2 linked regions of the Homo sapiens genome follow. The protein of the gene in region 1 purifies or fractionates together with the protein of each later gene. This does not show direct contact. Each region holds a gene or a part of one and is shown on either strand. Other genes may lie near its edges.

Evidence for each region. Proteins that work in one complex are often made in the same cells at the same time.
Region 2: the proteins of ZDHHC18 (region 1) and RXRA purify together in Homo sapiens (affinity purification with mass spectrometry, with the first as the bait; one large-scale study listed by BioGRID). This does not show direct contact.

The regions. Positions count from the first base shown.
Region 1 is NC_000001.11:26,832,644-26,837,559, forward strand, and holds part of ZDHHC18 (palmitoyltransferase ZDHHC18), read left to right. Parts: intron 1-4,916. UniProt on the Homo sapiens protein: Palmitoyltransferase that catalyzes the addition of palmitate onto various protein substrates, such as CGAS, HRAS and LCK. Acts as a negative regulator of the cGAS-STING pathway be mediating palmitoylation and inactivation of CGAS.
Region 2 is NC_000009.12:134,406,009-134,410,924, reverse strand, and holds part of RXRA (retinoic acid receptor RXR-alpha), read right to left. Parts: intron 4,366-4,916; exon of another isoform or gene 3,433-4,365; intron 2,777-3,432; coding exon 2,626-2,776; intron 1,986-2,625; coding exon 1,806-1,985; intron 1-1,805. UniProt on the Homo sapiens protein: Receptor for retinoic acid that acts as a transcription factor.

The DNA.
Region 1 (4,916 bases):
TAGCTCCACATTCCCTGACTTGGGAGGAGGCCTGGTTTTCTCTTCCAAAACTATACTAGGAACTGGGGATGCAGTCGTGAGCAAGGCAGGCTGGAGCTGACACTGGCACAGAGGGAGACAGATGATCAACAAGTGAGCAAATAAGTAAGCAAGAAATGCTGGCCAGCCAGCAAAGGCCCCGATGGCAGCCAGCGTGGAGCTGAGTAGTTCCTGGGGGCTAGGCACTGTTTTAAGCTCTTTATATGCATGATCTTATTTAATCCCCCAGTAATCCTATGAGGTAGGTACTGTTGTCATTCTCCTTTTACTGATTAATTAAATCAAGGCAAAAGAGGGTCCAAGATCACAAAGTAAGTAGAAGAGCTGAGATGAGACCTCAGTCTAGAGCACCTGCTCTTAAACATTCATATACACTTATTCATTCACTCATCAAACATTTATTGACCCCCTACTATGTGCCAGGCACTTTTCTAGATGTGATACAGCAGTGAACAAAACTGACAATAGTCCCTGTCCTCATGGAGCTTGACAGTTGAGGAGGAGGAAAGAGACAATAAATAACAAATAATTAAATATCTAGGATATCAGACAGAGAAGAAAGGAGGGAAGGAGGATGAAGGCTACAGGGAGGGTGTGTGATTTTACATAGGGTGGCCAGGGAACATCTTGTGAAGGAGGTGACATCTGAGCAAAGAAGCACCGGCCTGAACAGATGAGGGCTTGACGGTGGGGTTATCTAGGGAAGAGCCCAGTAGGTGTTGGGGAGTGGGCTAGTTTAGGTCAGGTGGTCAGGGGAGACCTCTAGGAGGAGGCGGCACTGGAGATGAGTGTGGTAGAAATACGGGGATCTGGGAAAAGTAAGGCCAAAGCCCAGAGTGGCAAACAGCCTGGGCGTGTGTGAGGAACGGCAGTGGCTGGAAAGACCCTGTGCTCCCAGGCAGCCCAGGTGGCCCTTGATTCCTTTCAGACTGCTGTGTGGGTTCCGGGGTGGCGGGGTACTGGGCCAGGTCCCTAATCTCAGCTTGCTGCACCCCAGCTCTTCCTGCTGAGAAGTGACGTGGCTACTTGCACACCTCGGGGGTTTCCGGTCCGTGGTTAGCTCCTTCCCCTAACAGCATGGTGTTCACACAGGCTTTTAAACACCCAGCTGGCCCTGAAGACATCTAGTGGCCTGTAAATGTCAGAGCCCTGCTGCATCCATCGCTAGAAATCATTTCACTAATACTCTGTGCAGCAGGGAGGGAGGGAGGGCGAGCAGCTGGAGAGGATGTTCTCTGGGCTCTGTCTGCTCTTTGTCTCATTCCTCTGCCCAGCCCCATCCTCAGCCACGCCTGCGAGGGCCACCTCCTCTCACCTACATCCAGCGTCCTACCCCTTCAAACTCTGGGTCCCTGGCCACTCCTTCAGGATCCCACGGTCTGACCTGGGCTGGCCCACCTGGCAGCTGGGGAGGCCCAGCTGTGCCCCGTTCTTCCTCCCCTTCTGGTCAGGGCTAATCATGAGGCAGGATTATTGTCCAGCTCAGCCGGACCCAGAGGTCTGGCTGCCTGGAATCCTCGGCCTCCTGTGAGCTGCGTGGATCACAGTGACAGCAGTAATCCCCTTCTTGGAAAGAGCTTGGCCGTGTGCTGAGTGCTTTCCATCTATTATCCCCACAAATCTTCACAACAGCCCAGTGAGGGCGACCCTGTTAACCAATTGTACTGATGGAGAAACGGAGGCAGGTGATCACAGGGCCAGGATAAAGAAGCAGAGACAGAGTGTGTGCCTTTCACTCCCAAACCCCTTGCTTTCTCTTCTGAGATGGCAGCAGGGACACATCTCCTTCATCCTCTTCTCCACTTGTTTCCTGTGCTCTGGGAAGCCTTCTTGACCCCAGTTGGGCCAGGCCTTCCATTGCACATTCCCAGAGCACCTTCTCCTTCCTTCTCTGAACCTGTGCTGCAACGGTGGTCATTACAAAATCATCCTTTCTGCTGGCCTGTGAGGGCATGGAATTCCAGCATCTTGTTCACCTTGTCGCCATGTAGAAGGCTCAGTGACGTTGGCTAAATGAGTAAATGAATGACTGAAGAATAGGTGAGCTTCTGTGAAGGCCCTCCTTGCTCTGTCAGGGTGACAGGTGAGGAAACAGTCAGGACATCTCCCAGTTGGGCATCATGGGTTTGTTCATTTGTGTGTTAATTCTATATGCTGACCCCTGACAGCAGAGTGAAGGCAGGTGGGGGCCAACAATGAATCTGATAGGAGCTTACTCTCATGGGTTCCAGACAAGTTGGCCCCAGGTGGGAGCCCTGACCAGCCACTGCCAGTGAGATCAGGCTTTAGAAGAGGGTCAGAGGAGTCAGGAGCATCTTCTGCCTGGGGGACTGGAGAAGCTTCCTGGAGAAGTGATGCTTGAGCTAAGTCTTTAAGTTTGGGTGGAATTCAAGCACAGGAGCTGTGCGGAGGCAGCCCTTCAGGCAGACAAAGCTGAGGGAAGAGAGAGTGGCAGAGGGAAGGAGGAGGGATGGGAACGGGCCACTGAGCAGGCCACGTTGGCTAGAATATGAGGAGCACTTCAGATAGTTAGGGATATTAGAGATATTCCAGTTGGAAGGATGGGGTGGAATCAATCTTGTAGGGCGCTGAATGTCCCTAAGACTTTTCTTGGCGAACAGGTGCAAAGTGCAAAAGTGGCATTTTGGAGGCCTTTGAATTCTCAAACTTGAATAGAAGCCAAATTTTTGGGTGTGACCAGGAGACTTCTAACTAATTAAAGTAAAACATATTTCCCAGGGCTGGCACAGTGGCTCACGCCTGTAATCCCAGCACTTTGGGAGGCCGAGGCGGGCGGATCACAAGGTCAGGAGATTGAGACCATCCTGGCCAACATGGTGAAACCCTGTCTCTAGTAAAAATACAAAAATTAGCTGGGCATGGTGGCGTGTGCCTGTAATCCCAGCTACTCAGGAGGCTGAGGCAGAATAATCGCTTGAACCAGGGAGTCGGAGGTTGCAGTGAGCCAAGGTTGCGCCATTGCACTCCAGCCTGGTGACAGAGCAAGACTCCGTCTCAAAAAACAAAAAAAACCAAAAACATATTTCCCCGAAAATGATCAGGACTAAGATCACTGAACCTTTTCCAGAAGGTTGGGAGCTGTCTCTGAGGCAGGTGGTGCTGTTCATGTGAGCATGAACTGATTACCTGGTCCTAGGCTCATGTAGACAGTGTGGGCTTTTCCCTTTGGCACCCCAGCCCAGCAACTCCAGCCCAACAGGTCTGGCCCAGGGCTCCTGCCCTGTGGGGACAGTCTGAGGTAGAGTGACCAGCTCCTCCCAGTTTACCCAGGACCACCTGGAAAGTCTCCTGTCTTAGGAAACCACTCAATCCCAGGAAAATCAGGGCACTCGGTCACCCTCATCTGAGATCCTGTCTTGCCGGCTGGTGGGCTGTGCAGCTGGCTCACCCTGCAGGCTCTAGGCAGTTGGGAAGAGCAATATTGCTCCCAGAAGCTCCTGGTCTGATGGGAGGTGATAGAGACATCCAAATCCAAGTGACAGATGCTCACTTAGACCCTGTTACAGTTCACATGACGGACACAGAGGCTGCGTCTCTCTCCACTGCCATACACCAGCTCCCAGACCCCATCTCCTTTGTCTCCAGGACGTCTCTGCCCACTTCCCCTGGACAGACCTGCCTCGTGTTCCACCTGAACTGGCTCAGGGCTCTGCAGAACAGGCCCTGACTGGGCCTTTCCCTTCAATTGTAGTTATCTCTCCAAGATCCCAAATTTGTTCTCCCCACCCCTGCCCTGTCCCCCCACAAACCCCACAGAATTTGGGTGACTCTCTGGTGCCCTCAGCATATCAGTGATATGAGTCCAGCCTTTGTGATTTTTCCTTCTGCATCCCGCCTTGTACCTTCATTTCTTTTTTTTTCTTTTTTTCTTTTTTTTTTTTTTGAGACGGAGTCTTGCTCCGTTGCCCAGGCTGGAGTGCAGTGGCACAATCTCAGCTCACTGCAACCTCTGCCTCCCAGGTTCATGCCATTCTCCTGCCTCAGCCTCCCGAGTAGCTGGGACTACAGGCACCTGCTACCACGCCCAGCTAATTTTTCGTATTTTTAGTAGAGACGGGGTTTCACTGTGTTAGCCAGGATGGTCTCGATCTCCTGACCTTGTGATCCGCCCGTCTCAGCCTCCCAAAGTGCTGGGATTACAGGCATGAGCCACCGCATCTGGCTGTACCTTCATTTCTTTAGTATTTTCCTCCTAAATGGCTCATCTTTAAATATATATGTATAATATATATATTTCATATACATTAAATATATATTAAATGCAGCTGGGCGCAGTGGCTCATGCCTGTAATCCCAGCACATTGGGAGGCCGAAGCAGGTGGATCACAAGGTCAGGAGATCGAGACCATCCTGGCTAACAAGGTGAAGCCCCATCTCTACTAAAAAAAATACAAAAAAAATTAGCTGGGTGTGGTGGCGGCCACCTGTAGTCCCAGCTACTCGGGAGGCTGAGGCAGGAGAATGGTGTGAACCTGGGAGGCGGAGCTTGCAGTGAGCCGAGATGGCGCCACTGCACTCCAGCCTGGGCGACAGAGTGAGACTCTGTCTCAAAAAAAATATATATATATATATATAAAATATACATTTATATATTTACTACATATGTATAATATATAACATATTTAATATGTATAATATATTTAACATATTTAATATGTATAATATACATTTTACATCTATATTTAATATGCATAATATGTATTTAACATATATTTAATATGTATAATATATTTAACATATTTAATATATTATGTATATTATTTATTTATTTATTTATTTATTTATTTATTTTTTGAGACAGAGTCTCGCTCTGTCACCCAGGCTGGAGTGCAATGGTGTGATCTCAGCTTACTGCA
Region 2 (4,916 bases), on another chromosome or scaffold:
GTTATCTGATGATCACTTTCAAAGGACAGCGAGCTTACTGCTGCAGGCCCAGGCCAGGCATCAGCCATGCACAGCGCTCTCATCTGCCCCCAAGCTCGCAGGGGTCTCCCTGAAGCCCCCAGGATCTGAGAGTGGTCTCGGCTAAACCAAGCTCTCTGTGCTGTGGCATCCTCACAGAGACTGCCAGGCTAAGGCTGCACACGAGGCCTTCCCCCCCCAGCTCCAGCCACGCCTCGGGCCTCCACCCCAGAACAGGCCAGTCTCCACGCCTGGGCACAGGGGCCCCGGCCACTGCCTACTATGCCTGCCCCTGTCCCAGTTTCCATCTTCCAGGGACAAGGCTGCACCTGCCACCACAGCAAGCCTCCCTGCCCACACCAGGCACCCGGAAGAACCAGACTGGGTCCACACCTCTCCAGGCTGGGTACACACCTCTCCAGGCTGGGCACACACCTCTCCAGGCTGGGCACATGCTCCTCTGCCCTCTGGTGAAAGCAACAAGGTCTGGATGGGGGCCAGGGCCCAGCATGTGACCCTGCGCAAGGCTTGAACCGTCTGCCCTCGGTTTCCCAACCTGCACAGCACAGGGTGGGCCTGAGCAAACGTCAGCACTCCATGAAACACGAATCCCCATCAGAAAGGCCTGACTGGCAGCACTGGGCATGGCCACACCAGCTCTGGAAGGCAGCTCTGCTATGCAGGCACAAGGACCTCACACCAGCCCATACACCACACTCAGCCTCGCAGCCCAAGGAGGACACCCTCCAGGAGCACGGCGCCTGGCAGAGGCTCTGATTTCTCAACAGGACCGTTAAGGCTGAGAAGACATACACAAGAGAGATGATGAAATGAAACTGCAGCACCAAGGTGGCCACTCAGGACATCCCTGACGGTGAGACAGTGGTGTGGGTCCTGTTTGGGGACCCCACCAGGGGCTGGCGGGGAGGAAGTAAGACACACCAGCCACACAGGTGTTGGGCCTCAGGAGCAGCACAGCAGAGGACAGAGGAAGGGTGTCCTGCAGAGCGGGGGGACAGGGACAGACCAACAGATCTTCACCCCAGACAGCACCTCCCACCTCCACAAGGCCCAGGGCACGGGACCCGATGGGAGGAACTGAGGCACACCCCCAAACGTGTGTGCAAACCATGACCCAGGGACCCACTAAGAGGCCAGGAATCGCCAAACCTGAGAGGGAAAGGGGATGTGACAGATGGGGAAACTGAGGACTACAGCCAGCCAGGACTGGGAAGTCACAGTGCCTGTGGGGCCCGGGACTCCGACCCAGGTCTGGCTGGATGACTTGACAATTTTGGTGACATCGGGGGAGGGACTTCCCTGCAAACCGCCCCGACACAGATTTGTTAATAAGACGAGCACAAAAACAAAAGGAAAGGAGGAACTGCTCCAAGAGCCTGGGGGCCATCCGGCGGCCCTGCGGGGTGCCACAGAGTTGGCCTCGGGAGGAAGCTGGCCCGGGACCACCCCTGGCATCCAACAGCTCAGAAGATGCCCCCGCTCCACCTCTCCAACCTAAGCAGTGCCACCTGAGGGTCTCCTTGACCATCCCCTCACCGGACAGCCAACGCCAGCCAGAACATGCCGCCCAGGACCCATGTGTGCCCACGCTCTGGGCCGCACGTGTGCCCACGCGCTGGGCCCCGCCCCCACTCCTGCCTTGGCCTTGCCATGCTTCTGTCCAGGCCACTCACTCCCTGTTGTCCATCTCGGGTGTCCACGCACAAGCCCGGGCCCCACTGTTTGTCCAACACCTGCCCGCGCCCCCACCCGACGCCGTGGCCTACCTTCCCGCTTCATGCCCATGGCCAGGCACTTCTGGTAGCGGCAGTACTGGCACCGGTTCCGCTGCCGCTTGTCAATCAGGCAGTCCTTGTTGTCGCGGCAGGTGTAGGTCAGGTCCTTGCGCACCGTCCGCTTGAAGAAGCCCTTGCACCCCTCGCAGCTGTACACTCCATAGTGCTTGCCTGCGGGACAGGGCAGAGCAGGGCTGGGGAGCACCCACCGCCCCGGCAGGGAGCCCACCCCCCATCCAACGCCGCCACTACCAGCTGGCGGGCCAGGCCTCAGAAAGGGACCTGCTGGTCTCCAGACCCCTGCCTGGGCTCAGACTGGGCCCCAGCCTCACTCTCTCTGCTCCTCCGAGGACAGCTTAGGAGTGGGGCAGGGACAAATCCCAGCCCACCAGGGACCAGGGCCCCAGGCAAGTCACCTGCTCTGTGTCTGCACTGTGCAGCCCGTTCTTCCCTCTCAGGCCGTTGGGGGTCAGTGGCACAACACGGGCCCCTTGCCCAGACCCAGCCAAGGGAGGAGGCGCAGCACTGGCTGCCCCCATGCTGACCTTGCCATCAGCAGCCACCTCCTCTCCGGAAGCCTCAGGCTGCCCTGTGCCCCACCCCACCCAACACTCACTGTCCCACAGACGTGAGAACCCTGGAATGGCCTCGCGGAGCCCTGGGAGTGGGGCATGGCCCAGGCACCTGCCTCCCTGCACCCTGGCCTTGGGTCCTGCTTGGCCCACAGGAGGGTGATTTGGGGAGGCCTCCAGACCCTGCAATGGCCTGACAACCCTGTCCCACCAGCCCCTGGCCCCCACAGCAGCGGTACCTGAGGAGCGGTCCCCGCAGATGGCGCAGATGTGCTTGGTGAAGGAAGCCATGTTTCCTGAGGGGTGGGCGGGGACCTTGAGGACGCCATTGAGGCCCAGGGGGGGCTTGATGTCCTCGCTGCTGCTGACGGGGTTCATAGGTGAGCTGAGCTGGGGGGGGCAACCACAGCAGTCAGCGGGGTGTACACCAGGTTTGTCCCTATGTCCCCCACGGCCCTGCAGCAAGGATGGCGCAGCTGTACCCCCAACTTCACACACAGACACCGAGGCTAGAGAGGGCCGTGCCCCCCACCCGCCACGCTGCTCCGGAGCAGCGGGGCCACTGTGCTTGCTCAGCAAGGCCAGCAGAGGCTGTGGCAACCTCAGGACTCGCCCGCAGCAGACCCCAGGCCTCTGTGGAAAAGGACCTTCAACACCCCCCCCAACACATGGGCGGTCCCTGCTTGCAACCCCCTGCCCGCTGCCCACCTAAATGAGAGCTGCCTCTCATTACTGAGCCCCTGGCAGTGCCCAGCCCCGCTGGGTGCCCCCGGACACTCCATGAGGCAGGCACTCTGGGGGGTCCCAACCCACACATGAGGACGCCGAAGCCCAGTTCCCAGGACGGAGGAGGGCTGGGGACCCCCCCAAGAACCACACATACACCCCACAACACCGCAGGGCAGGGGCCCTGGTCACGTGACCCAGGAGAGGGGAGTGGACACCCCCGGGCATCGGGTGGCACGACACCACTGGCCTCTCTGCACACCCCTCCGCCCCACCCGCCGGCCCGCACGCTGCCGCCCGGGCAAGCGTGGGAAACTCACCCGGTCACCCTGGCAACAGCTGCAGCGTGCAGTGACACAGCAGTTTTGGTTCCGCTGCCTCCACCCAGCTCTGCAGTCAGCGCCGAGGACCCACAGGCGCTTCCCGCTGCAGCCTGCCAGCCAGCCTGGCTGCGCAGGGCGGTAAGCGCTTGGCCAGGCAGCCCCCAGCCTCCACTTCTGCAAACCCCTGCCGCCGCTTGTGCGCAGGAAGCTCCCCTCCTTCCTTCCTCAGGCCTCCAAATCCCATCCCCCCTTCTCACGGGACAGGAAGAGTTTGAGGCTCAATGCAAGCAAAGCAGAAACCACCGCAAAGCCTCCTTTCACATGGACCTCGGTGCCTGGAATGAGTCTTCCAGCCCCAGCTTGTTCTGGCTTCTAGGTTCTTCCTCGATCTGCCCAGGTGGGCTGTGAGGCTTTACAAGGATGCTTGGTCCCTGCAGGACTCAGGTGGGCTGCGAGAGGCCAGGAGGTCCCCCGTGACAACTCAGCACAGTGGGGGTGCCATGAAGCTCCCACTGGAGAAGCGGGTGGCCACTGTGTGACTCACCAAATGCCCAGTGTTCATGTCCACAGGCAGCAGGTGCGCTTCTCAGAGAAGGGAGGGAACTGAAGGGGCAAGAGAAAGCCCCAGACGTCTGCAGAGGGGTGCGGTGCCTGGGCTTTGCACCCACACTTGACACTCCCTGCATGGGAAACCCTGGGTGTCCCAGATGCAGAGGCTGCGGCTCAGGGAGGTCAGGGGCTGGCCAAGGTCACACATGATCCCCCACGCTGCAGAAGGCGAAAGTGAAGCCCCTGGAGGGACAGAGCTCGTCCAAACTAAGTGCCCAGCTGGCCCTGCCCCGTGCTGGGCTCCGGGAGGCACCAGGGGACAAGGCCCTGCCCAGCCCTCCAGGGCTCGCTGGTCTAGTGGCTGTCTCGCTTGGAGGCACTGGAGGCCCCAGAGGCGGATCCCTGGCTCCGGATTCTGCCTGCCTCCTACGTTCTCGTGTGACATTCGGAAAATGATTTAATCACTGTGAGCCTGAGTTTCCTCGTCGGCAAAACTGGAACCATGTTAGTGCCTACTTCTTTTCTCTTTTTTTTTTTTTTTTTTTTCCGAAACAGGGTCTCACTCTGTTGCCCAGGCTGGAGGACAGTGGCACAATCACAGTCACTGCAGCCTCAAACTTCCAGGCCCAATTGATCCTCCTGCTTCAGCCTCCTGAGTAGCTGGGATTACAAGTCCATGCCACTGCACTCAGCTATTTTTTTTTTTTCTAGTGGTGGGGTCTCAACTATGTTGCCCAGGCTTGTCTCCAACTCCTAGGCTCAAGCAATCCTCCCGCCTCGGCCTCCCAAAGTGCTGGGATTACAGGCGTTGAGCCACCATGCCCAGCCAGTGCCTCTAAGAGCTGATTAAGTGTAACTGAGTCGCTCCATGTGCCAGGGCTCAGAGCAGAGCTCGCAGACAACTCACTGTCTTACAGGGAGGCCGGTGGCTG